Linked DNA regions of Homo sapiens. The protein of the gene in region 4 interacts with the protein of the main gene of each other region in a pairwise test. Each region holds a gene or a part of one and is shown on either strand. Other genes may lie near its edges. The genes, in order: ZNF18, ZNF224, MYO1E, CLIC6, OXR1, NISCH and ARG2.

Region 1 (3,537 bases), on a different chromosome or scaffold from region 4:
CGCATGAAACTCACTATACAGGCAGGACACTTTGAGGCATCTAACTTGTGGAGACAAGTACAATTGTACAGTTTAGATACATGTGTTAATAAACCACTAGAGAGTATTATAAACTAGATCAATGCTATCAATTTCTTCCTAACAAACACTCACAGACAAAATTAGACTATAACAGAGGTAATTTTAAAGCATAGAGCACACTTTGGCAAAAATGACAGCCCATGTGGGATGCCAGGAGAAAGGGGCAGCTTGAGGCAAGAGATCAAGTGGAAGGGTGGCTCAGAAAGAGGACACCAAAAACAAACTTACCTGAGATAAAGGTGTTGCCAGCACTGGCCAAGCTCCGATCGTCTGAACATTAGCCTAGGACTTTCCTATTACTGTTCTGCTACATTATGAACTTGAGGTTTATAGGGGCTGACTTTGGAGTTCAACTGCCTAGGGTCTTCTATGAAATAATGTGCTTTGAAATACAGTCAAACACACAGTGAACAAACAAATAAGATAGAAAGTGACTCTGCTAAGTTTATTTCAAACAAGGGACACTTGAAGTTAGTTTTTCACCCCTATGACAAAGAACACACGTGAGCTCACAGGCCCTCTATGCTTCTCCCCTTCTGGAACAGAAGACCTGCTCTAGAACTCATTTTAAGGGGCTGATCTGAGGTTCTTCCCATAAGCAGTGACTACAGCTAATCCCATTAAATGCTTCCCAGAAAGCACTTCTAAAACTGGATCTCCAATTTAGACTTTTTCCCCGATGGGTCCAAAGGAAGGATGAGTGGAAACATGAAGACTATTCTTTCTCCTGAGGCAGAATCAAGAATTTAAGCCATTGTGCAATCCAATCCAAGATATCCTCCAAGTCCAAAGCCATGTCCAGATTCTCTCCTCTCCAATCCAAGAAAAAAGGAGATTAACAGGGGTATCCTCTTAGACACAATTCCTCTTGATGGAGCTGAGTATTTTTGTGACTGGGCTGGGAGATAGAAATGGGGAAAGAGAGTTTGGTTACTGGCTATTGAAAGGGCTTCTTTCCTAAGTGGGATCTTTGATGTTTGTCAAGGCTCGAGCTCCAGCTGAAACTTTTCCCACAGTGCGAACATTTATAAGGTTTCTCTCCAGTGTGAACCCTCTGATGTCTATTAAAGTTTGATCTCTGAATGAAACTTTTCTCACAGATAGGACATTTATAGGGTTTCTCTCCTGTGTGGATTTTCTCGTGGTGGCGCAATCCTGAGAAGTCACTAAAGCCTTTCCCACAGTAATCACATTTACAGGGCTTCTCTCCCGTGTGAGTTCTCTGATGCTTCACAAAGTCTGAACTCCGCAGAAAGGCTTTTTTGCAGATGGTGCACTGAAAGTATGTCTCTCCGGTGTGAGTTCTTTGGTGAAAAATAAGCTGAGAATTCCTATAAAAGGTCTTCCCACACTCCCTGCAGGTGGGGAGCTTCTGGGCCATGGGGGCTCTTGGCTGCCCCTTCTGGGAGGTCTCTCTCTTCTCCTCAAGCCACATGGTGGACATTTCTCCTGAATGAGGATTAGGCAAATGCTGACCTAGTTGTTTCTCAGAAATCCTTTCTTGAGGAGACAGCTGTTCCCCTGTTCCCTCATCCTGAATGTTTTGCAGAGCCTCAGGGAGATTCTCTCCTTCTCCAAAGCATCCTGGCTCATCCTCAGTGAAGAAGCCCCTCAAGGAAGCCTGAGAAGGAACCTCTCCTGAAGCTTGACAGGAAGCATGCAGGAGCTCCTGGTCCCTGTGATTCTCCAAATTTAGGTTCTCCTTGTCATTCTCTTGTCTATCTCCTAAAAGAAGAAAGAAGATTTGAAATGGTTCAAGTGCTATGCCCTGTTTTCTAACTCATATGTCAAAGAGAGGGTCATCATAAAACATTCATTTTCTTTTTTTTTTTTTTTTTTTTTTTTTTAGGGCATTAGTAAGTGAGAAAGAAAACTACCATATGGCCCAAATGTTCAAACTCACTTCCCCTGTCCTGGGTTCAAGGCTAAATGGTTCAGCTCTGGAGCTGAGGATTTTTAAACAACACAGGAGTACTCATAAAGTGATCACTCCGTAAATAAAGCCACATGTATTTCTTAAGGACCAGGAAAAAAACAAGTATATTATAGGCAACTACTGCTTTTAAAGTGATTTTTATCTGATTATATATAAAAGATAAATATGGTAACTAAAAAAAAAAACTGAAGAGAGAGAAATATATACAGAAGAAAACCAAATCCGCCTCAATCTTACTACCCAGAGATAACAACTATGAGCATACATTTCCTTTCAGTCTTTTTAATTTAACCTATATGTATGCAGGTATATGCTATTTTCTGACATAATTTGTGTCATATTGTACATATAGTTCTATATCTAGCTATGGAGCATTTAATTGTGAATGGTGGCATTAATCAATGTAATATAGAGTCTCCCTCTCCCATTCATAAGACGCCCAAAATCTGTGAAATGCACGTGTCATTTTACCACAGCTGCAATGCAGCGGGGCTTTACTATAAAAGTGAATCCCTTGATCTGTGCTTGAATCTAGTATTTACATGCCCTTTATTAAATCACACTAGCAACTGGAAGTTTGTTTTTCTCATCGTAACTTGGGTTTTTGGTTATAGTACTTAATGATGCAAATAGAAAATTTTTATTTTGGTGGTAGGATTTTCAACTTTTATAAATTATTTTAACTATATAGATCTAAAGATGCCATTTACCTTTCTCTTTCACATATTAGTGTCTTTTCAATTGTCTGCCAGGGATCTAGACATCTTCTAGAGAGCTAGATCTGAACTTGTTAAGTCAAAAAGCCTTAGAATGTCCCTGAATCTAAAAATAAAATAAAATAAAATAAAAGCCTTAGAATATATTCCTCTCAAATGGCAAAGGTACTTTCTCGTGTTTTTAAAAAAGCCTTTATAAATATCATTTTAAAGAGCTGAGTAATGGCCCATCAAGAAGATGTCATAATAAACATATAATTTGTTCCCCTACCATGGAAATCTAATTTGCTTATTGTGTTTTTGCGACTACAAATAATGCTGTGATCAGCAGTTTTCTTCATAAGTTTTTGCCCACATTTCTCATCAATATCTCAAAGGAATTTCTCAAAGTAGAATTACTGTGTCAACGGGCATAAATATTAAGGCTCTTGACACCTACTGGCAACCCAACTTCCAGAACAACTCTGCCATCCTCTCATATGTGAAATTGGGCAGAGGGGGAAGTGGGTATTCAATACTTAAATATTGAATATTTTTAAACTTATGCCATTTAGATGGATGAAAAGTGGTTTTTCATTGTTTTAAATTTTAATTCTTAAGTTATGAAAGGATGAATCTTTATCACATTTATGAGCTATTTTTCATACTCGAAGACTGCTGCCCATATTTTACTGGGAAAGCACATTTTTCTTATCAACTTTCTTTAACTCTTTCTATATCAACAAAAATAATCATTTATCTGTCATGGTCATGAAAACTTTTTTTTTGAGATGGAGTTTTGCTCTGTCACCCAGGCTGGAGTGC
Region 2 (4,299 bases), on a different chromosome or scaffold from region 4:
TTTACAGCTGAATGCCCACTAATAATGTTATCTATTCCTAAGAAACTTTATTCTTTTCAATTTTTTTTAAGTAACTTTATAGTGGAGAAATCTGAAAGACAGCGTCTCGGCCAAGTGGACAAGGTTGAGATCACCAATGAAGAGACAAACTGACATCACTTGGACCCTGTTATGTTGCAATGAAAAGGACATTTCAGCACTTCTGTGGTATCCCTACCAACAATGCATAATCTGAACCCGCAATTCACCACTTCTGTGGTATCCCTACCAACAATGCATAATGTGAACCCGCACATGAATTACATCAGACACAACTCCAAATGAATGCCTTTCTCCAAAATAACTTGCCTATACTCTTCAAAAATATCAAGCATAGAAAGACAAAGGGTGTAGAATCCTCAAGATTAAAGATTATGGAAATGTGACAATTAAAGGCAATGCATAAAATTAGACTGTGAACACAGGTGGTGGTGGCAGATGGGTAGGGGACACTTGTAAGAACCTTAAGTGAAAAATAGAACAAATTTAAATATAGAACTGCAGAGTACATAACATGAAGTTAGGTAATATGTTATCTAGCACTGTATAATAGATAATACAATAAACTACTATTAGCAGTCTTTGGATAGATATCTAATATTTAATAAATAACATTATCTGGTATACAATCTGAAATTATCTAATATGTTATGTGAAACCATATACTAGGTCTTCCTAAATTCTACTTACCAAGACAGCCCCTGGTACGTGGGCTTCCTTGCTGCAGAAAGCTATAATCAGCTGTCTCTGGTTACAGGTATGTTTCTAGTGGTATTCAGCTGATGGTCATCAACAAAACAAACAGGAAAAATGTAAACACTTGGCAAACGTGGGTAAAGAGTAAATAAGAATTTCTTAGGCTACTTTTGCAACTTTTCTATAGGTTTCAAATGACATGAAAATAAAAAGTTTTATAATTTTAGGAAACAGTCATAGGAAAAATAATAACAATAATGAGATTAATGAGTATGATATAACATGATAATTCACTAGTTTAGTCTGTCAGCATTTGGAAATTTCCATAGTTAAACACATAAGGGGGAAATATTAAGAAAAAAATTATAAAAATTTGTAAATGTTCATAAATAAACCTATAAATATACAAAAAGAAAGAAACACATTACGAGCTTAACAGTTGCTACCTTTACTTCATGGATTCGTAGGTAATAAAAACATTTTGTTCTTTTTTTTTTTTTTTTGAGACGGAGTCTCGCACTGTCGCCCAGACTGGAGTGCAATGGCAGATCTCCGCTCACTGCAACCTCCGCCTCCCAGATTCAAACGATTCTCCTGCCTCACCCTCCCGAGTAGATGGGATTACAGGCGCCCACCACCACGCCCAGCTAATTTTTGTAATTATTTTTTAGTAGAGATGCGGTTTCACCATGTTGGCCAGGCTGGTCTCGAACTCCTGACCTCGTGATCCGCCCGCCTGGACCTCCCAAAGTGCTGGGATTACAGGCGTAAGCCACCGCGCCAGGCCCATTTTGTTCTTAATAAAGAAAAATAGAATGCTGTACAATGACATGGTTCTATAAGAATACAAAATATTTGTAATGATTGAAACAAAATAGTTGACAACATTTTTAGAAACTCAGAAAATTTCAAGCCCCTAAGTCTTGCTTTCCCCACCTAAGTCCAACTAGTTCCTCTGCCTCAGTGACAACGTATCCCAAGAGAAGATCAAATCAGGCTCTGACCCAGACTGCTTAGGTTCCAACCCCAGCTCCACCTCTCACTAGTCGGGTGCCTATGCGCTCTGTGTCTCACTTTCGTTTTTAAAATAGAAAAAAGCAATACTTCTCCACAGAGCCACGGTGTGGCGTAAATTTATTTGTATAAAGCCCTTAGAATGAAGTTACTAATTAAGACTTAATTATTATCGACCCCCATGCCCGAGGACACAACCTATACACTCTCGGTTGGGGTGAGCATCTCGGTCAAAGAGCCAAGGACCACTCACGTAGAGCTTTGCCCTCAGAAGCCAAGAAGTCCCTCCCTGCAGCTCTTCTGGAAAGGTCGGGTTGGGGAACGAGAAAGCTGTGAAACACCTTGACCGCGTCGCCGTCCCCCATAAAAGTTAAATGCTCCTTTCCCTTCATGAAAGTGGACGCAACCCTCGCTCTCCTAAAAAGAGGTCAGAAGGCTTCCGGGATCATCCAGCGTCCTGCAGGGATCAGGGAGAAGGGCCGAGGCCCCTGCAGCTGGAGCTCTGACCCCACCCGGTCCTTCGTGGGAAATTAACAAGAGACCACCAGTCACCAAGTGACAGGGACTGCTTTAAGGCTCTCATTTGTGTTACCTCTTCCAGTTCCCAAAACGATTCCATTAGGATGGCCCTAAAGTCCCCATTTTAAAGAACAGTAACGGGAAACCCAAGGAGATTAACACCCCAACGTTATATCGAGAAGAAGTGGCCACGCGCGTGGGGTGCAGGGGGCGGAGTGGGCGAGCTCAGAGCCCCGGAAACCCTGAAACCAGGTGAGACGCGACCCAACCAAGTACCAATGCCCCCGGGAAGCGAGGACAGACCCAAGCCCAAGAAGGTGCCACGGACGAGAACGCAAACAGCGGCCCTTGCCCCTCCAAACCTCTACTCTCCGACGAGGCCCCTTTTCCCCTAATTCGATCACCAGTTCTTTGAGGATCCAATGCGTAGGTCCAGGAAATTCAGAAGGGCCTGCAACGCGCGGAACTGCCCCAAACTATCGCGGAAAAACTGCAGCAACCTCAGTCCCCGAGCGGAAGTGTCCGCGACTCCACCGAATGTTTGGACTCCACTTCCCAGAATTCCCCGGGACCCGCCAGCCGGAGCCAAACTGACCGCGACTCCACTGAGCGTCTGGACTACACTTCCCAGAATTCCCTGGGACCCAACTGCCGGAGCTAAACCGACCGCGATTCCACTGAGGGTCTGGACTGTACTCCTGCAGCATTACACTCAAAGGGAAGTGTTGACGACTACTGGGAAGCCCTTGACCACTCTTCCCACGGGGAACGAATCTCGTACCCCCGAGCGCCTGTTGGGAAATGTGGACTTCTACCCTGAGAGTCGTCCTTCCCTCTCCCTGGGTGCCTAAGAGAAAATACCGTATAGAAAGGAATTCCTGAAGTCTAAACCCCTCTAGTGAGGACAGGAGTGTTACTGGAAAGGGAACAAGCGAGATGATACACTCTTCAAATAAGTTTTGCCAGTGGTAAGAAATGGCATGTAGTTTTAATTTATAACTCTTGTAAAGATGGCATATTCTTGCATATTTTCAGGTGTCATTATTACATTTTTTGTAAATTGTCCAGATGTTTTGCCCACTTTCTTATTGAGTTTTTGGTTTTATCCCTCACTTTTCAAGCACTGTTCTTATATTCATGATATTAACATTTTATCTCGCAAATATTTTCTCAACAAAAACGTTTTTTTTTATTGTTTTATCTATGCAAAACATTTTAATGTATTTTATTATTTAAAACATCTCTATTGAGGTGTAATGCACAAAACGTGAAATTCACCATTTTAGGATATATGTAGTACAAATAAAAAGTTAGGAAACATTTTCATCACCCCAAAAACCCCATACCCACTAAGCAGTCACTGTCTAACACTAATCTCTGTCCTATTGAATTACCTATTGTGGACATTTCATATAAATGGAATTATACATTATGGAACCTTTTGTTTCTGACACCTTTCACTTAGCATCCTGCTTCTTTTTTTTTTTTTTGAGACGGAATCTCAAAAAAAGTGCCAGGCTGGAGTGCAGTGGCACGATCTTAGCTCACTGCAACCTCCGCCTCCCGGGTTCAAGCGATTCTCCTGTCTCAGCCTCCCGAGTAGCTGGGACTACAGGCGCGTGCCACCACGCCTGGCTAATTTTTCTGTATTTTTAGTAGAGACGGGGTTTCACCGTGTTAGCCAGGATGGTCTCGATCTCTTGACCTCGTGATCCTCCCGCCTCGGCCTCCCAAAGTGCTGGGATTACAGGCGTGAGCCACCGCGCCCTGCCAGCATACTGCTTTTAAAGTTCATCCACATCACAGCATGTACCAGTACTTCATAATATTTTATGTTTCTACTACGATTTGTTTTTTTTGTTTGCTTTGTCTTGTTTTGTTTTGAGGTGGGGTTTCCCTCTTGATGCCCAGGCTGGAGTGCAATGGCACGATCTCAGCTCACTGCAACCCCCGCCTCCTGGGTTAAAACGATTCTTCTGCCTCAGCCTCCCAAGTAGCTGGCATTACAGCCATGCGCCACCACACCCAGCT
Region 3 (3,469 bases), on a different chromosome or scaffold from region 4:
AGTGCTGGTGGCTGTGGGGACTCCAGCATGCTCCTCTGTCCCAGTTCTGGTGGTATCTTCCTCCCACTGCGGGGAGTCCATGAATGTGAAAGTACTTTAGAGACCACTAGTGTCAACAGGATTACCTTTCCTCAACTCACCGCATCATGGCTCTACTTTCCTCTCTGGTCGCAACATGGAACTGAAGTAGCCTTTTAACATTATTCGTTACTGTTACAGAATGGAGTTTGCTCCCTGTTCTTGAAGTAAAACACAGCAGAATTAAATGTATCTTCGTTTCAAATCTAGATCAATTTTTTTCCCTTATACGTAAGCCCTGATAATTTTTTCCCATGGACTTGAGGATCCTGAAAGCCTCAAAGGTGTATGCTGCTCAAACTCTAAGTTACCAGTAGCTTAAGAATGGCTATGGCACCCAGAGGAGGAAAGGTAGAGAAATGGCAGTCTCTACTTACAACCATTCCATTATTGATGGGCATTACACTGATTCCAGCTTTTCACTATTATGGCAAGAAAACATTGTTTTAGTTTGTTAGGGCTGCCGTAACAAACTACCACAAACCGAGTGGCTTAAACAGCGAAATGTATTGCCTCACAGTTCTGGAGGTTGGAAGTCCAAGACCAAGGTGGGCAGGGCTGGTTCCTTGTGAGGGTGTGAGGGAGAATCTGTTCCAGGCCTCTGTCCAGGGCTTGTGAATGGCTGTCTTCTCCCTGCCTTTTCACATGGTCTTTCCTCTGGCATGTTGGTCTCTGTGTCCAAATTTCCCCTTTTCATCAGGACACCATTATATTGGATTAAGACCCACTCTAATGACTTCATTTTAATTAGTTTTGTTTGTTTGCTCCATAAAGACTCTATTTCCAAATAAGGTCATATTGTGAGGTACTGGTGGCTGGGACTCCAACATCTTCTTTGGAGGCACACAATTCAACCCATAACAAATGTCATAAAAGAAGAAGGTGTTCGCCGATTCCTTTATTTATTTAGGAGGTGGGGGCAGGACGCGGAGTAAGTTTCCTATAGGGAAAGAGTTGAGAAGAGTCTGCAGGGACTGACCTAGAAAGCAGTGACACTCCGTAGTTGGAAAAAAGCAGAGCACATCTTTAAGTACCTGGTGTGAGTTTTGTAAGAAAACCTACCTTATGAATGAGTACAGTGGAATACTACTTAGTACATTCATACATGTTTCTACCATCTCAAGATTTTTATATATACAGTATATGATCTGTTTTTATAAATGTACAGCTTGAAAAAAGATCCTTCTTGTAGTAAGTACAGCATTTAAACACAAACCAATATGGGCCAGCCACATTCTAATTGAAGACCCAGAGAAAGCAAAGCCAGCAGCCCAGCCCCCAGCCCCCAGCCCCTGACCTGCTTGGCGGCCCTGATGGTCCCGGCAAAGTGTAAACCAGTGCCCCTCTGTCGCCCTGGGCTCAGCAGGCCAGCTTACCCTTGGCACGTACATGGGAAGTGCCTGCTCACGCTAAGCCCAGTCTGCAGAGGGCGGGTCCTCCCTGAAGGAAGGTGGCAGAGAGGAATGTGTCTATCAGGTATGGACAAGAGAGATGAAAGAAATGTGCTCTTCAACTAAAGGCACTTGTCAGCGGCCACCTACAGCCATTCTCTAGGCCTGGTGAGCAAGCAGGGTGCTGTTTTGATAGAAGCCTACAAGGTCTGAGCAGACCTCACTTGTCCTCTCACCAGGTTTAAATACAATAAATAAATCTTAATGCATGGTGGTTTTGTCCTCCTGGGTTCCTATGAAGAGGCTACCTTTTAGGATCACTTATGGAGTGATACTCCCTGTCCCCAACCCAGCCTTTTCAGTGTCCTCCATGGGGAAGGTACCAGAATAGCTCCAGGCCTTGGAGAAGCAATTGCTCATTGTGGATTGTAAGGGGAGCCCCTAAATATCCCCTCCCCTGGTCTGTGCCTGGAGCTCCTCTGCCCCATGTGTCAGAGTCACGGGCACCTCAGATCTTGGTCACATAGTTGTTGGGGAACAGGCCCTGCTTGCCTCGTAGTCGACCCGTCCACCAGCCAGAAGGATCTGCAGGGAGAGAGAGGTGGTGGAAGTGAAGATGAGAAAGTCTGTTCTGCCCCAGCCACACACACTCCGCTCCCATGGGCTCAAGTGATTTGGCTCCATCCATGTTGTTTTCCCTTTGTTCTTTAAATCAAAAAGTTTGTTGAAAAAAGTAAGATATCTACCAAATTAATAAAGCACTCAGCCAAGCCCATGGACTGCTTTAATAATGGATATTCAAGGTTGTCTTCCTGGCTTCCACTCCATCCACTTTCATTATGAAGAAGCCAGGAAGTGTGGGTGGGACAGACCTCCCCGTTTCTGGGGACAGCCCCTACCAGGTCTCATCCTCTCAGGGTACAGCCTTTGTCTTGCTACTGAAGTTGGTTCAGGGATGGACACATGGCTAATTTGGTCTGATCAGAATAAAAGTCAGGACTTTTGTCCAATGACTAAGAACAGAAGTTTCAGAGATGATGCACATTTCAGACATGGTTTGATATGTTGGCCTGGAATTGCTGCTGCCGTTTTGCTACCATGAAGAAAAACAGCTTGACAAGGGAGGGAATATAAATAAGGGGGCAGAGCTGAAAGAAGCATTAAAAAAGCTGGTGTCTTGATCAGACTGAGCCTGAGGCCTGACCTGCCTCTACAAATTGCAGTTTGAGGAGCCCATAAATTCTTTTCATTTTCACACTAGATCTTACAGCAATGTGACTGCATGCTCTTTGGGAGGCTGTCCCAGCCAACCAGCCACACACTTACCTTCTTTGATAATATCAATAATGTCATTGGCATTAAAGCTGAGTTCGTCTGTGTCCTGAGCGTCATAGGCATACAAAGCCTTGCACTGTGGCACCTGAGGCTTGGGCTTGGGCTGGGGCTTGGGTCTGCCCCCTGCTGGGGGAGGCCGACTGGTTGTTTGTCTCCTGACCCTGTGGAGAGAGTGGAGCAGATGAGACTGGGCCCCAACAGGGGGCAGCAGCACCGAACGGTGGTTTGGAGCATGGCGGCCGGCACTGGCCTGTTCAAGTTCAAATCCAGCTCCATCCTTAGAAGACATGTGGCCCAGGGTGCAGTCTTTAAACTTGAGGAATAAAAGTAACTTTTCTGACAAGGTTGTTGCAAATGCACATAGCTCTTAAAAACCTTAGCTGCTGTTGTCACTGTGTCCCCAGCATAGAAGGAAATGTGGGAGACACATATCCATAAAAAAGTGTCAAAAGTATACCCATACATTTAAATCAGGAACATTCAGGTATCTGTCCCTCCTTCCTCAAGTTTCGAAATGGAACTTTTGCAGGTGCCACAGAAGCCTGTAGGCATTTCTCCTTCACTGCATTCCCCCCAGATTACCACCACCTTACAGTTTGTATTAACCATTCTCTGGCTCATCTCTACAGTTTGCCACACATGTAAATACCCCTAGCCAATATTTG
Region 4 (2,365 bases):
TATTTTATTTTATTTTATTTTATTTTATTTTATTTTGTTTTTCATTTCATTTCATTTCATTTCATTTCATTTCATTTCATTTCATTTCATTTTGAGACAGGGTCTCACTCTGTTGCCCAGGCTAGAGTGCAGTGGTGTGATCTCAGGTCACTGCAACCTCCACCTCCCAGGCTCGAGGTATCCTCCCACCTCAGCCTCCCTAGTAGCTAGGACTACAGGTGCCCACCACCATGCCTAGCTAATTTTTGTATTTTTAGTAGAGATGGGGTTTCACCAGGTTGGCCAGGCTGGTCTTGAACTCCTGACCTCAGGTGATCTGCCTGTCTCGGCCTCCCAAAGTGCTGGGATTACAGACATGAGCCACTATGCCGGTATGCCAGGCCTGTCCTCACCATTTTAAAAGAAGCCCATACCATTCATTTTATTTCTTGAAACCTAAATGGAGAATGGGGAATGCAAAAAATAATAAAAAATAAAAAATAAAACCCAAAAGAAATTGGTTCCATTTAAACATTTTTATAATTTGTTTCATTTTCAAGGCACAAAGAGTTTATGTCAATCATTTTAATGTCTAAGAATACAAAGTTAGCACTAGTAACATCTGGTAGTCTAATCATTTATCATGCTTAAATGTAACATTACAAAACTACATTTTAAAATCTGCCCCCTAACCAGATGTGAAACAACGTGGACAAGGGTGACATGTGCTAGACCCAATCTCCAAAAACGTATGGTTGACAAAGACAGCTGACTGCTGGGGTAAAACTGCAGCAGTCATAATCGAAGAGCGAAAGAGGCCACTCTATTAAAGACTTTGTTTCTTTTGCTAGACATTTTTCACCTAATCCCAGGATAGTTTCTGTTAATGCATCTTACTCTCTTTCAAACGAATCGTCCCTAGAGCAGGTGTACACATTAAAAATGAGCTTTATAGCATCAAACACATACCACAACCAACTCTACAAGGAGGGTTTTCTGTAAGATGTGTACGACTGTCCGAAGAACACATTCTGGCTGATAAGTCTCAGCTCCTGTGAGGTCCTGATGAGTATCTAAACAACCTCACATTTTCTCTTCCACGCCTAGGGTTAAGGCCAGCACTCAGCCCACACACAAAGCTGTGATGAGAGGTTGGTTAGGGATGGTGGAGGCAAAGCCACAGATCAGCCAGAAACTCTTTTGAGTCAATAGTTTCTACTCCCTCCCTAACTGGACCGTTTACCAGAACTGCCCAGGACTTGTCACCATGAATTTAATCTCCCTGGATTTTCCCTGCTTGATGTCTAGATGAGACAATGAAGGGCAGAGAAGTATTGCTATCCCCACACGATACCACCAGCACTGAGGGACTGCAGCCTTGGGTCTCAGAGAGAGCCGCCCGGAGAAGGAACCAAAGTGTGCTTGGTTCACATTTCAGGGCAGGGAGGTTCTCCAAGTTGCAGCAGATATTAAGAGTCCTGCTGAAGGCACAGTCTCTAAGAGAGGGGAGGGAGCAAAGACAGGAAGCTGGAACCAGAGACACGGATAAGCACCCTCCCCCTTGCCTTTCCTGGAAGCAGAGGCAGTGGCATCCTGGAGGCAGAAATGAGGCAGAGTGGGGGTGACCCAGGGCTTCCGGTTCCTGCTGGTCATTGCGTGCGCATCTGTGGGCTTCACAATTCCCCACTCCTTAAAATCTAACCTCAAGCATCTTCTCTGGCACTGCGGTGCCCAATATTTTTGTATGGTGTAAGTCCTCTGTGTATGATCATCCAGGAATCACCAAGAGGTCCCCTCACCAGTGCTTTAAAATAAAATAATGCAATACCATATATGAATGAAATTGTGTGTGTGTGTGTGTGTGTGTGTGTGTGTGTGTGTGATAGAGAGAGAGAGAGAGAGAGAGAGAGAGAACAAGATACTGAAGATTTGGAACATGTTCTCCAGTAAGTTTTCGGTAATTAAGTGGAGTAAAATTGAAGGCGATTGTTAAAATGTCCTTCTTTACACCCTCTGATATTGCTTTAAAATATCAAGATAGGTGTGTCTCATTTTGTAATTACAAAGCAGTATTTTCATTTTGAAGAAAATTAAACTAATGTTTTAGAGAAGAAAAACAGGCTCTCAATGATTTAAAAAACTCTCAGAGACCAGTTTTTTAAAAATTGAAGGAATTGAACCCAAACCTAATTTGTTTTCAAACACACTGTTTTCGTATCCTTGCTCACTCAACTGAGAAATAAGACAGAAAACAGCCCAGCTTCATTTCATTCTTTTTGCAACATCTGAATATGCGTGTTCAATCTCTTGATCAGCTGGACACGTATTTGTGAACTCATCTCTAGCATAAGCATTATTCAAGTATCTCCAGATGCCAGTCATTTCA
Region 5 (3,500 bases), on a different chromosome or scaffold from region 4:
TCTCTTTCTAGTAATTCATGATCACTAAAACAAGTTTCTGCATCCTGAATGGACATCAGTCTAATGTGCCTGCCCAGCAGGCACATTATCATTTATTCCCCTCTTCCAGTAGTAACAGATTATAGATTATGCTTTAGGACTATTGGTCAAAATGGCCTATTCTTCCCCCAAACTCTGTCTCTCTCTCTCTCTCTCTGTCCTTTCTAAATGCTGAGTCTTGAGGACAGTGACACAATGATGGAAAATAGCTAGAGCTGATCCATTCCAGCACTGGGATATTATCCTGTCCAAGGTCCTGCTCTTCAGAATTTCCTTCAATTCCATGAACTCCTCCATAACCATCCAATGGATTCCTTTCTGCTTAATCTGAATAGAATACACTTCTATTGAAGTCAGTGAAGGAACTCTGATAAGTTACAACATCATAACTTTGAGTTTTGTTCTGTTTTGTTTTAAGATTTACCTTATTTGGACTTACTACTATTAGTAAGTTCCAGTGAAATTTCAGCCTTACTCCATTCCCTTCCACAAAGTAATCTAAATGATTAGTTCAGAGCTTTTCTATGTAGTTATCTATAATGTATCTATTACTGTTTTTGCAAATCTCTGTGCTTCAGTCAGAAGAGGCAGTTGATGGAAAACTTTTTAAAAGTGCATAGTTTCTAATTAAGCTACTAAAAACCTTTTATTTTCAGTCCCATTAGACAGCAAAAATAATTTAAAAACTGCAATACCAAAGAAAACCTTACCCATAATATTTAGGAACAAACATAATGTGTGCATGATACTCAAACACAAAACTCTTAATACAGTATATAATCAACAGCTATGCCTTAAAGGCTATGTTAAAATGATTTCTCTCTAGGTATTTCTTAAAATTACAGAATATTTTTACCATGCCAGAATGGTAATTTTTTCTTCTTAGTTGTTCATTTCATATTTCAGATAATTAAAAACTGTATCTGAAACATTCACATGACTTTATGCTTTCTCTGTTATACACCCACCAATGTAACTGCTGATTGGAAATTTAAAAACATGCTGGCAAAGAGGTAAAAATCTCACTTCAATGATACTTTAGTCGTGTGAAAGAATACCTTTCAACTTCTTTAGTCTTCTTAAGAATTTAAGAACCTAAATAGATATAACAGAAAATGAAAGTCTGGTTCATTTCTGTGGTTTTTAATTTTTGAACTGCATTGTGCTAAAGTATCTCCCCCACCTCCCATGTTGGAAACTACATATGGAAAAACCAATTGCTACACTGACATACTTACCACAAGCAGACTACATTTTATAGTAGCCTGAAAGCTACTAACTTTAAAAATGCAAAGATATGTGATTTTATTTTCCCATTTTAAGACATTTTAAAATAAGGCACTTACATTTATTTATGTGACTAAACCATTGGATGAATGAAAACAGAAGAAAATATTTTTCACTCAAAGCCATTTATCATGGCTGTTAACATTCTTCTGCTTAATATGTGATGTATGACATCCAGTCACTGTGATCTACGCAAAGGGTGAAAAATAAATGAGAGAAAGCATCCTTAGTCCATTAATATGTTAATTAAAAAAGTAAGATCACATTTTATCTTAGAAAATGACTGCATTTAAGAGACTGCATTCAACAGCCCTAATGGATGATGTAGAATTTTTTTTTTTAATATACATTTAACAAGTTAACCTTTCTGGATTTTTTTTTTAGTTGCCCATGTTTGTAGATACTAAGACTTGTTTGTACATAAATCTTAGTAGCCTTCCTGTAAAGTGTAATTTGGTATGTAGATGAAGGACCAGAGGTTAGTAAGGTAAGCCAGGAACAAAGGAATAAATCACGGGATGTTAGATTAACAATTTACATGATGACAGCTCCTGACTTTTATCAGAAAACAGTGATTCTACTACCTAGTATCTAATGTAAGAAAATATATTAATTTGTTCCTTGAACAGTTGTTTGTAGCAAAACATAAATTCTAGTGTGTACCCAGCCAGTCTAATGATGTAGATTGAAGGAAGAGAGCTAATGGGCACTGCTGTCATTAATCTTGAAAATTCAGATCAATCATTGGAAACACATATTCAGTAATGGTACAGAAAGAATCCTCTAGACTTTAACCATGACCCAGATGAAATAAAACCATGGCTCTAACATTTTTCTTTGGGGCCAAACAGTAACATAAATGCTGTGGTGGCTTCTTATTGTGCTAGCATACAATCAGCATACAAACAGCAATCCCTCAATTTTCTATGGGAAAACACACTTCCTCAACCAGTATATTCCACCTTTCCAGCCACTATGACTGGTGGAGGGCTCTTGACCTGACCAGGGATATTTGCTGGAATTTCTAGGAACAGCAGCTTCCTCTTTCATCTGTAAAAGGTACAGGAAGAGACTGTCCTCTTCACTAGGTTTGAACCTGGGAACATGAAGCTCTGAAAGCTTCTGGCAGCCATCTTAGAACCCTGAAGAGTAAGCCTGTCAAGGACATAGCCAAGATTAAGGAAGAGGAGCTAAGAAATTGCAATGGAAACTGCAGTGCAACTGGTCACATGGGTGTGAGCCCTGAATCAGGTCCTGCTTAGAGTCACATAGAGCTCCCGGCTCCACTTACACAGTCATGAATCATGTCTCTCTTTTTTTTCCTCAAGAAACTTGAGATCAGGCTTTATGATTCTTGAGAGTAAAACAGTTGGAACTAATTCAAGCATAAATGATCACTTGCAAGGGCACAGCTGAAGTGTGGTGGAATTAGCAGAGTACAAGGACAAAGAGGGTGCCAGACATCATGCTAGCATCTTTACTTGCTTATGTCACCGAATCATCACAGGAATCATAACCTATAATCCGGTGGATATGATTCTTAAAAAGTAGTAAGGTAGAAAGTAATTTGCCCAATTTTTTTGTAGCTAATAACTGAGGAACAGAGATTTGAATACAAACTTGGGTGGTGCTAAAGAGAATGTTCTTTCAAAGTTTCCATCTGTTCTGGTTTCCAATTTTAACTCTTTCATTATTCCAATTGATCATATGCATATCAGTCACCATAAATTACAAATAAGAATACATACATTATTTATTTTACAATGAACAACATACAACAGGTTTTCAGATTTTTATTGAATCTGAAATGCTTCAATAAACCATAATGGCAACAACACTAAACTGGTATAAAAACATCTATAAACTTAATAACAGAATTATCAGCAAGGGCCAATCTTCAATTTTCTGATCATCAAAAAATACATCCTAGTTGAAAGACATTATGCATATGGTTTTGTTTGGTTTTAGAAATCTTTACCTAAAGCTCTACTTATTTTCATCCCAATTAGGAAAAAATAAAAAGGCGTTTAATCTTTTTGACAATTTAGGTGAATACCTGAATTGAACATAATTAGAGACCCATCAGTTACCTTTTTTTTTTTTTTTTTTTGCCTCTAACAGAATCTAACAGCTGAAAGGAGAAGCTCTTGAGCTAAATATCGGTTCTTGAGCAT
Region 6 (3,500 bases), on a different chromosome or scaffold from region 4:
CCTGCCCAGGCCGCTGCTCTCCTGCAATCCACCCTCTGCCTGCTAACGTTCAACTCCTATTCACCTTCGAGATTCACCTCAGACACCACCTCCACTGCAGACCTTCTCTGCTCTAGACAGTCTACAAAAGCCCCACACCATCCTACCCTGTTCTCCTCCAGCACATGGCTCATCCTCCCGCATGGCTCCAAGCTCCCCAGGGGCACAGTCTGGGTCATCTTGAACCCCCTACTAAGGATGTGGGAAAGGGCAGCCCTCATCGACCACCTCTGTGGAGCTCTGGGTAGTGCCAAGCGCCTCCCCAGCATTCGCTCATGCATGCCTCTCGTTATTTACCACATTTCATCAAATCTAAGATGCGGCAGGTGGCGCCATCTTGGTCCTAGCGGAAGGTGTCCACGGGTTTTCCACGACTCCATCTCGAATACCAGCTGGCTGACAGCGACTATGAGACGCCACTGACTGAAAGACGCACCTCAGTTTCAGAGAAGTCACAAGGTGGAAATGCGTGCCTCTTAGAATCAATGAAGTAGGGTGCGTCCACTTCACAGTTGAGAAAACAGCTTCAGAGGGGCTACAAGTTGCTTGAGGTCCCACAGCTAGGAAGCTGGCATGCGAACTCAGCTGACCGAGCCCTGGCTCCTAACCACCTCTCCACACAGCCTCCTCTCAGCCCCTGGGCCTGGCTGGACAATCAACTCTGGCGACCACCCCTATTGGTCACAATCATCCATGGCTCCGACAGCGCCTGCCACGACGGGAGGCTGGGTGTTGTCTGGACAGCGCCCCCTTCAGGCAGGCCCGAGTGCCAGTTCCTTCGCAAGCAGGCTCCCTTCTCGGGAATCAGGCTGGAAGCAACAGGCATGGGTCAGCAAAGCTGCTCCCACGCGCTAAAAAACCCTGTCCATCCAGGCAAGACCCAGGAACACGCGGCTGAAAAAACACACGGGGAGGCCTCCAAATCAGTGAGAAAAAGACCAACACCTTTTGCCACTACCTCCCACAAGCCCTGTTTGGACCAAGGAAATGTGGACAGGGACAGGGACAGTCTATCTGCTCCCGTCCTGGACCGTGGCCTGTACAAACAAGTGGTCAGAAAGGGCACTCAGCGGATAGAGCGGAGACATCAGGAGAGTCCTTAGGGGTCCGATCTTTGCTGTTTCTCACCAAAAGGAAAGAGAGGTGCACACAAAGACATCCACTGCAGTTTTATTTAAGAGGTGCAAATCTGGAGGCCATGTCCAGAAGTCCAGCGATGGCGGGGACAGACTGCAGAGTGCCCCTCTGCAGAGTGTCCCCAGGGCACAAGGGGAGTGAGGAGGGGGCTGAGCTGGTGCAGAGGCTTCTCCGACAATGTGGGGGGCTGCCTGCAGCTGCAGCCTGGGGACATGGTGCATCCCCACCCATCCAGGGCCTGCTCTTCACTGGCTCCTGCTCTACCTGCCCACTCACTCACTCACTGATCAACAGATGCTGGCAGAAATGGCTGTGTCCCTGGCCTTGAGAAGCAGATGCAGCTCCCTGTCCCCAGAGGCCTACAGTCATATGGTACCTCCACAGGCTCGCTTGGCTGCGCTACAGGAGGCAGCGTCAGGGAAGCTTTCTCACCGTGATATAACCTCCCTGGCTTTTATGTAATAAAATGCAACCAGAAATCCTTAGTCAAGAGTCTGACAGAAGCAAAATGGGCAATCATCCTGGCACCTAACCCCATCGCTCCACGCTCAGGAATTCTCTTCCACATCTCACAGGTGTGACCTCAGTGTGCTGCTCTGCGTTGGGCCTTTTGCCTTAACTTGAATGCTTCTCCCCTCTTCCTGCCCAGTCTTCCTGTCCCTGCTGGGAGGGCTGCTGAGCATTCTGCACCACAGCCGACTCTCCCTCTCATCCTCCGATGTTGCAGTTGCAGCCCGTGTTTTGGCAGTGGTGAGCATTTCACCTCCCCTTCCCGGTATCTTATCCCTCTAAGAGAAAATCCCCACCAGTGGGGTTACCAGGTCAAGGGGTGGGAATGTTTTTCTGGCTCTTAAAACATCGGGTTGAACTGTTTTCCCAAGACCTCACACCAAGTTCTGCGTCTCCAGGAGCCCGGGCAGGCGGCGTCCTTTCCTGCGTGTCCCGAGCCTCGGCTCCACTCGGGACGGCACACCCTCCCCTCTTCCGTGGGGGCCGGGCCAGCAGACACGCTCATGAGACCTGCTTCACTCACTCATCTCCGAGGATGCCTGGGTTCAGAGGTGAAAGCCCTTTGAAAACGCTAAGATAGTGGGCAGACGAATGGGCCTGGTCTTCCATGGGTCCACAGGGACAGAGATGGCCCATCTTGGCCCCACAAACATGGTGTTCTGGGGCTGGGTCACCCCACAGAGATGAGGCAGTGATAAAAGCAAGCTTTTCCCTGCACAGGGATTCGGGCTCCAGACAGTAAAGTCACAAGCCCGGCTTCCTGTAACCAGGAGCCAACCTGCTTGTGCTGCCGGTGAGGGAATGGGTCCCATGAGCCAACAGCCCCGAGCCTGTTCAGAGGGCAGCCTCAGGGCCTGTCAGACACCCTGCGGTCTCCTAGAGGAGCTGGATGTGGGCATCAGAGCAATTGGGAGTCCTCACCAAGCAAGCAACAGCTGGCATCAGGCCAGGCACCCCTGCCATGTGTCCCCCCGCGAGGACCAGCCTGCAGAAGGCACTGCCCTCCCTGTGTCTGACCCTGTTGGAAGCAGGTGCTGGCACCTCTCCCCCAACCCCAGCCCAGCCAGGGGGCCCAGGCAGGGCTGTGTGGCTCCACTAGAAGCAAGATACATACACGATTACCTTGGTTAGAGAGGATGGGCTGGGGCAGGGAGGCAGATGCGGGAGCCACAGTGGGAGGGGAGCTGCTGGGTCTGATGCAGGGGGCAGCTGAGAGCCGGGAGTCTTCACCACCCTGAGGACGAGTGCTTGAGTCAGCCCGGGAGAGAAGAGGAAGCACAGAGCTCCCCAAGGCCAGGGGTGTGAGGAGGGAGCGCAACGGTTCCCACCAACTGGGTGGTAAAGATGGTCTCATCATATCCTTAGAGCAGGAACTACCACTGTCCCCACCCCACAGAGAACAGAGAGGCCGCGACTTGCCCGAGGTCATGCAGCCAGGGAGGGGCGCAGCTGGGACTCGGCAGCCCTGAGCAGTCCCATGGCCCAAGCCCCCCAAACTGGCTCCTATCCCGGCTGGCTCTGCACCACTGCCCTCCCACCTGCCACACAAACCCACCTTCTTCTCTGGGTTGCTCAGTTTGGACTTGACCTCCTTGGCTTTCTGAATTGCTTTCAGCACTTCCACAGTGTCCAGCTCCTTCTCTGTGGTCACTGTGTCATCCAGACAGACCTAGAGCATCCAGAAAGTGGCTATCAGCATGGGGACTGGTGATGGCTATCAGCATGGGGACTGGTGATGGCTATCAGCATGGGGACTGGTGAGCATGGCAGGAGGATGGTAGGGCTCTGCTGAGGAGGAGGCGTGAGCACCTGCT
Region 7 (3,500 bases), on a different chromosome or scaffold from region 4:
ATATTGGAAACAAGACAGAAAACTTTGTCCTATTCTTTTTTTCCTCCCCAGCCCTTGTGTCACCCAGACCTATTCTTAAAGGTGAGATACACCTACAGCAAGAATTCTGTATTTATCTTTTGGTCATTACACTTTAAGAAATAGTCATATAAAAGGCCCCAACCTGGAGAAGATCCAGACAACCAGATAAAAAGGTAGCAGAGCAGGGGTAGGAGGAGAAAAATATGACAACAGGCCAAAGACATTGTGAACCAAGATAAAAATGTGAACCAAATAAAACATCTATAAAAATCTTTTATTTTTTTAAAAAAAGACAAAAAGGTTTGAGTAAAGTCATTATGGACTTCACCAAATCTCAAAATATGGAGAGGATACTTTAGACTTAAGAGAATGAAAGCTTTAATTAACCTTCAAGTCAATATCAAGTCTTTCCTCTGTCTGTTGACAACACAATCCTGGACTGCACAGACTTTTTTTTTTTTTTTTTTTTTTTTTGAGACAGGGTCTTGCGCTATCATGCAGGCTGGAGTGCAGTGGCACAATCTCGGCTCACTGCAACCTCCACTTCCTGGATTCAAGCAATTCTCCTACCTCAGCCTCCCAAGTAGCTGGGATTACAGGTGTGCGCCACCACGTCTGGTGAATTTGTTTTTGTATTTTTAGTAGAGACAGGGTTTCGCCATGTTGGCTAGGCTGGTCTCGAACTCCTGACCGCAAGTGATCCACCTGCCTCGGCCTCCCAAAGTGCTGGGATTACAGGCATGAGCCACTGCACCCAGTGTACTGTACAGATCTTGAATGGACAATTCCTGGATGTTTCTACTTTCACCTCCATGTTTATCTCAGCACTCTCCTTAAATCACATCAACCATTAGGTTCTTACTAGATGTAAGACACCAGGGTATGCCTGGTGTTTTATAATATTAGGTGTACAATTATAAAAGATTTATAATCTTTATAAATTTATATTTTGGTAATTGCACTCTAAGGAATAGTCATATAAAAGGCCCCAAACTGGAGTTAAATAATATTAACTAACGTTTCAGAACTATTTGCCAAGCACTTTCATTCAATCCTCATAGGACCAAGAAGAAATACAGGGAAATTAAAGTGCTCAATCCAGTGGATAAGTCACAGAACTTTGGGACTACCCAAGTCCAATCATGCAAACCAGGATGTAGACTCAGATAAACGTGACAGAAAACAGTACTCACTTGTATTAGAAAAAAGCTGCACAAAGCCTAAAAAGGAACCTAAAGAGAATTTGGCAATCTTACAGTAACGTTCCCAGGAAGAGAGACTGAATTTCATAGAAGGATTTCAGTCGCTAATTCAGGCCACCACTCTGCTCTCATTACAGGTGCTAGAAGGGTTACTAACTTCTGTCGGGGGTTCATCAGATTAATTCCCAACCTGGGTAGTGGATTCTGTCCACATTGTCCAACTCCATTTACTCCGATGCCATCTCACCAAACAGCATTCTGGCTATTCAGTTGGTTTCCCACATGCCTTAATATGGGCAAAAGCTTCTAGACAGTGGACACTGGAAGGACTACTGCTTAACATAATTATGCACGGGCATTTTGGTTGATCCAGCATGGTTAGCATGAGTCTGGGTCTGAAAGCCTGATGAGCTATGCACTCAGCAACCTTGTGTTTCTGCATCCACAAAGCTAAGGGCCAGCCTCCTCTAAAGGGATTTATACCTTGAGAGGCCCTGCCTGAGTGGCCTACCTTCCTGCTCCCAACTCTGTTTTTTCTTTTTTCCCCCTAGAATATTCAGGAAGAACGAACTCAACTCTATAATTTGCACAGTTTCAGTGCCAGGTAAGGACTTGGGACAATGAGTCCTAAAGGAGTCAGGGGAAGTTCACTGAGGATCAGGGGCGTCAAAGAAGAACTCCTATGACAAATAGTTTGTACTTGCACTGTTTTGTTTTGAAATTCTCTGTAAAATTGGATAACGTGTATATCAGAGGTCCCAAACCTACTGCCCGGGTTTTACTACTGTATCCTTTCAGACTTTAATCATTTTTTTTCTTTTTTTTTTGGATTATTTGTAGAGACAGGGTCTCACTGTGTTTTCCAGGCTGGTCTCCAACTCCTGGGCTCAAGTAATGCTCCCATCATGGCCTTCTAAAGTGCTAGGATTACAGATGTGAGCCACCATGCCTGGGCTAGTTATAGGCATAATACATAATATTATTTTAAGTAAGGTTATTAGAGTAAATTAACTGTCATAGCAAAATATGTTTGAGCCCAAAATATGGCTCAAACAAGTTTATTTCTTGTTTGTTTAGCATCCAGGGTAGATATTCCAGGTCAGCAGGAGGCTTTCCTTTATGCAGTAATTCAGAGACCTGGCTTGTGGCTCTCATGCCTAGGACTTTGCCATCTGTGTGGCTAAGTCTAGGTCTCCCCAGGTTCAAGGCAGCGGGAGAGGAAGAAAGCATTGAGAAAGCACACCTCCTCTTTTCAAGACTCTGGCCTGAAAGTGGCACATTACTCCTGCTCACTTTTGGCACTGGCCAGCAAATGCAGGTCTAGCTTATGTCCAGAACAGAATGCGAATGGATTTTGGTGGACAGCTAGCAATGTATGCCACCGTGAGTACTTTTTTATTCTACTGCCATAACCTTTAAGAACAAAATATGAAAGTTGCTCTAGGATTACAAATTTATGTTAAACTATTCTAGTTAATTACATAACTGAATCAACAAATACATGATGCCAGCCTGATGTCACCTCTTAAGAGCTTTCTCCTCTAATGCCCACTGTGCCAATAGTATTGGGTACTACCAATACCCAAAGGACTGGTAGAACAGAACCCTAGTTCTAGGATTATCTGAACCCTGGTTCTAGTATGTTGTTGTAGAAAACATGAATTGTAACCCATCTGCTACAGTTTTTTTTTAAGAGGAGTGAGGAGGCTGATGGGAAGTTAACTTTTTGTAACAGCAGGATGAACTGAGTAATATTAAAGTTCTTTTTTTTTTTTTTTTTTTTTTTGAGACAGAGTCTTGCTCTGTCGCTCAGGCTGGAGTGCAATGGCATGATCTCGGCTCACTGCAACCTCCACCTCCCTGGTTCAAGGGGCTCTGCTGCCTCAGCCTCCCCAAGTAGCTGGGATTACAGGCATGCACCACCATGCCCAGCTAATTTTTGTAGTTTTAGTAGAGACGAGGTTTCGCCATGTTGGTCAGGCTGGTCTCGAACTCCTGACCTCAAGTGATCCTCCCACTTCAGCCTCCCAAAGCGCTAGGATTACAGGTGTGAGCCACCATGCCCAGCCTTAAAGCTATTTCTTTATCAGAGTGCTGTGGCAAGTTCTTCTGGTTCATAGGTCATAAGAAACGGTCTCACTAATTTTTCAAGAAGCTTAGGGTAATGATGAAAAATGCAGACATTGTAATGTGTAAGGAATATGTGTCTGGCTGTTATGCCTGTGGGAACTTTCCCTTTCTCTAACTGTGCATCAGGTCAATTCATCTGTAAGTCCA

Evidence for each region.
Region 1: the proteins of CLIC6 (region 4) and ZNF18 interact in a two-hybrid assay, tested with the Homo sapiens proteins (one large-scale study listed by BioGRID and IntAct).
Region 2: the proteins of CLIC6 (region 4) and ZNF224 interact in a two-hybrid assay, tested with the Homo sapiens proteins (one large-scale study listed by BioGRID and IntAct).
Region 3: the proteins of CLIC6 (region 4) and MYO1E interact in a two-hybrid assay, tested with the Homo sapiens proteins (one large-scale study listed by BioGRID and IntAct).
Region 5: the proteins of CLIC6 (region 4) and OXR1 interact in a two-hybrid assay, tested with the Homo sapiens proteins (one large-scale study listed by BioGRID and IntAct).
Region 6: the proteins of CLIC6 (region 4) and NISCH interact in a two-hybrid assay, tested with the Homo sapiens proteins (one large-scale study listed by BioGRID and IntAct).
Region 7: the proteins of CLIC6 (region 4) and ARG2 interact in a two-hybrid assay, tested with the Homo sapiens proteins (one large-scale study listed by BioGRID and IntAct).

The regions. Positions count from the first base shown.
Region 1 is NC_000017.11:11,976,939-11,980,475, forward strand, and holds the end of ZNF18 (zinc finger protein 18), read right to left. Parts: intron 1,807-3,537; coding exon 1,019-1,806; 3' UTR 501-1,018; downstream 1-500. UniProt on the Homo sapiens protein: May be involved in transcriptional regulation.
Region 2 is NC_000019.10:44,092,862-44,097,160, reverse strand, and holds the start of ZNF224 (zinc finger protein 224), read right to left. Parts: upstream 2,801-4,299; 5' UTR 2,631-2,800; intron 819-2,630; 5' UTR 730-818; intron 1-729.
Region 3 is NC_000015.10:59,135,403-59,138,871, forward strand, and holds part of MYO1E (unconventional myosin-Ie), read right to left. Parts: intron 2,966-3,469; coding exon 2,796-2,965; intron 2,055-2,795; coding exon 1,978-2,054; 3' UTR 1-1,977. UniProt on the Homo sapiens protein: Actin-based motor molecule with ATPase activity. Unconventional myosins serve in intracellular movements. Their highly divergent tails bind to membranous compartments, which are then moved relative to actin filaments.
Region 4 is NC_000021.9:34,716,359-34,718,723, reverse strand, and holds the end of CLIC6 (chloride intracellular channel protein 6), read right to left. Parts: coding exon 2,242-2,365; 3' UTR 501-2,241; downstream 1-500. UniProt on the Homo sapiens protein: In the soluble state, catalyzes glutaredoxin-like thiol disulfide exchange reactions with reduced glutathione as electron donor. Can insert into membranes and form voltage-dependent chloride-selective channels.
Region 5 is NC_000008.11:106,276,690-106,280,189, reverse strand, and holds part of OXR1 (oxidation resistance protein 1), read right to left. Parts: intron 1-3,500. UniProt on the Homo sapiens protein: May be involved in protection from oxidative damage.
Region 6 is NC_000003.12:52,479,604-52,483,103, reverse strand, and holds part of NISCH (nischarin), read right to left. Parts: intron 3,356-3,500; coding exon 3,242-3,355; intron 2,921-3,241; coding exon 2,809-2,920; coding exon of another isoform or gene 2,585-2,808; exon of another isoform or gene 2,226-2,584; coding exon of another isoform or gene 2,206-2,225; exon of another isoform or gene 347-2,205; coding exon of another isoform or gene 337-346; intron 1-336. UniProt on the Homo sapiens protein: Acts either as the functional imidazoline-1 receptor (I1R) candidate or as a membrane-associated mediator of the I1R signaling.
Region 7 is NC_000014.9:67,636,920-67,640,419, reverse strand, and holds part of ARG2 (arginase-2, mitochondrial precursor), read right to left. Parts: intron 1,828-3,500; exon of another isoform or gene 707-1,827; intron 1-706. UniProt on the Homo sapiens protein: May play a role in the regulation of extra-urea cycle arginine metabolism and also in down-regulation of nitric oxide synthesis. Extrahepatic arginase functions to regulate L-arginine bioavailability to nitric oxid synthase (NOS).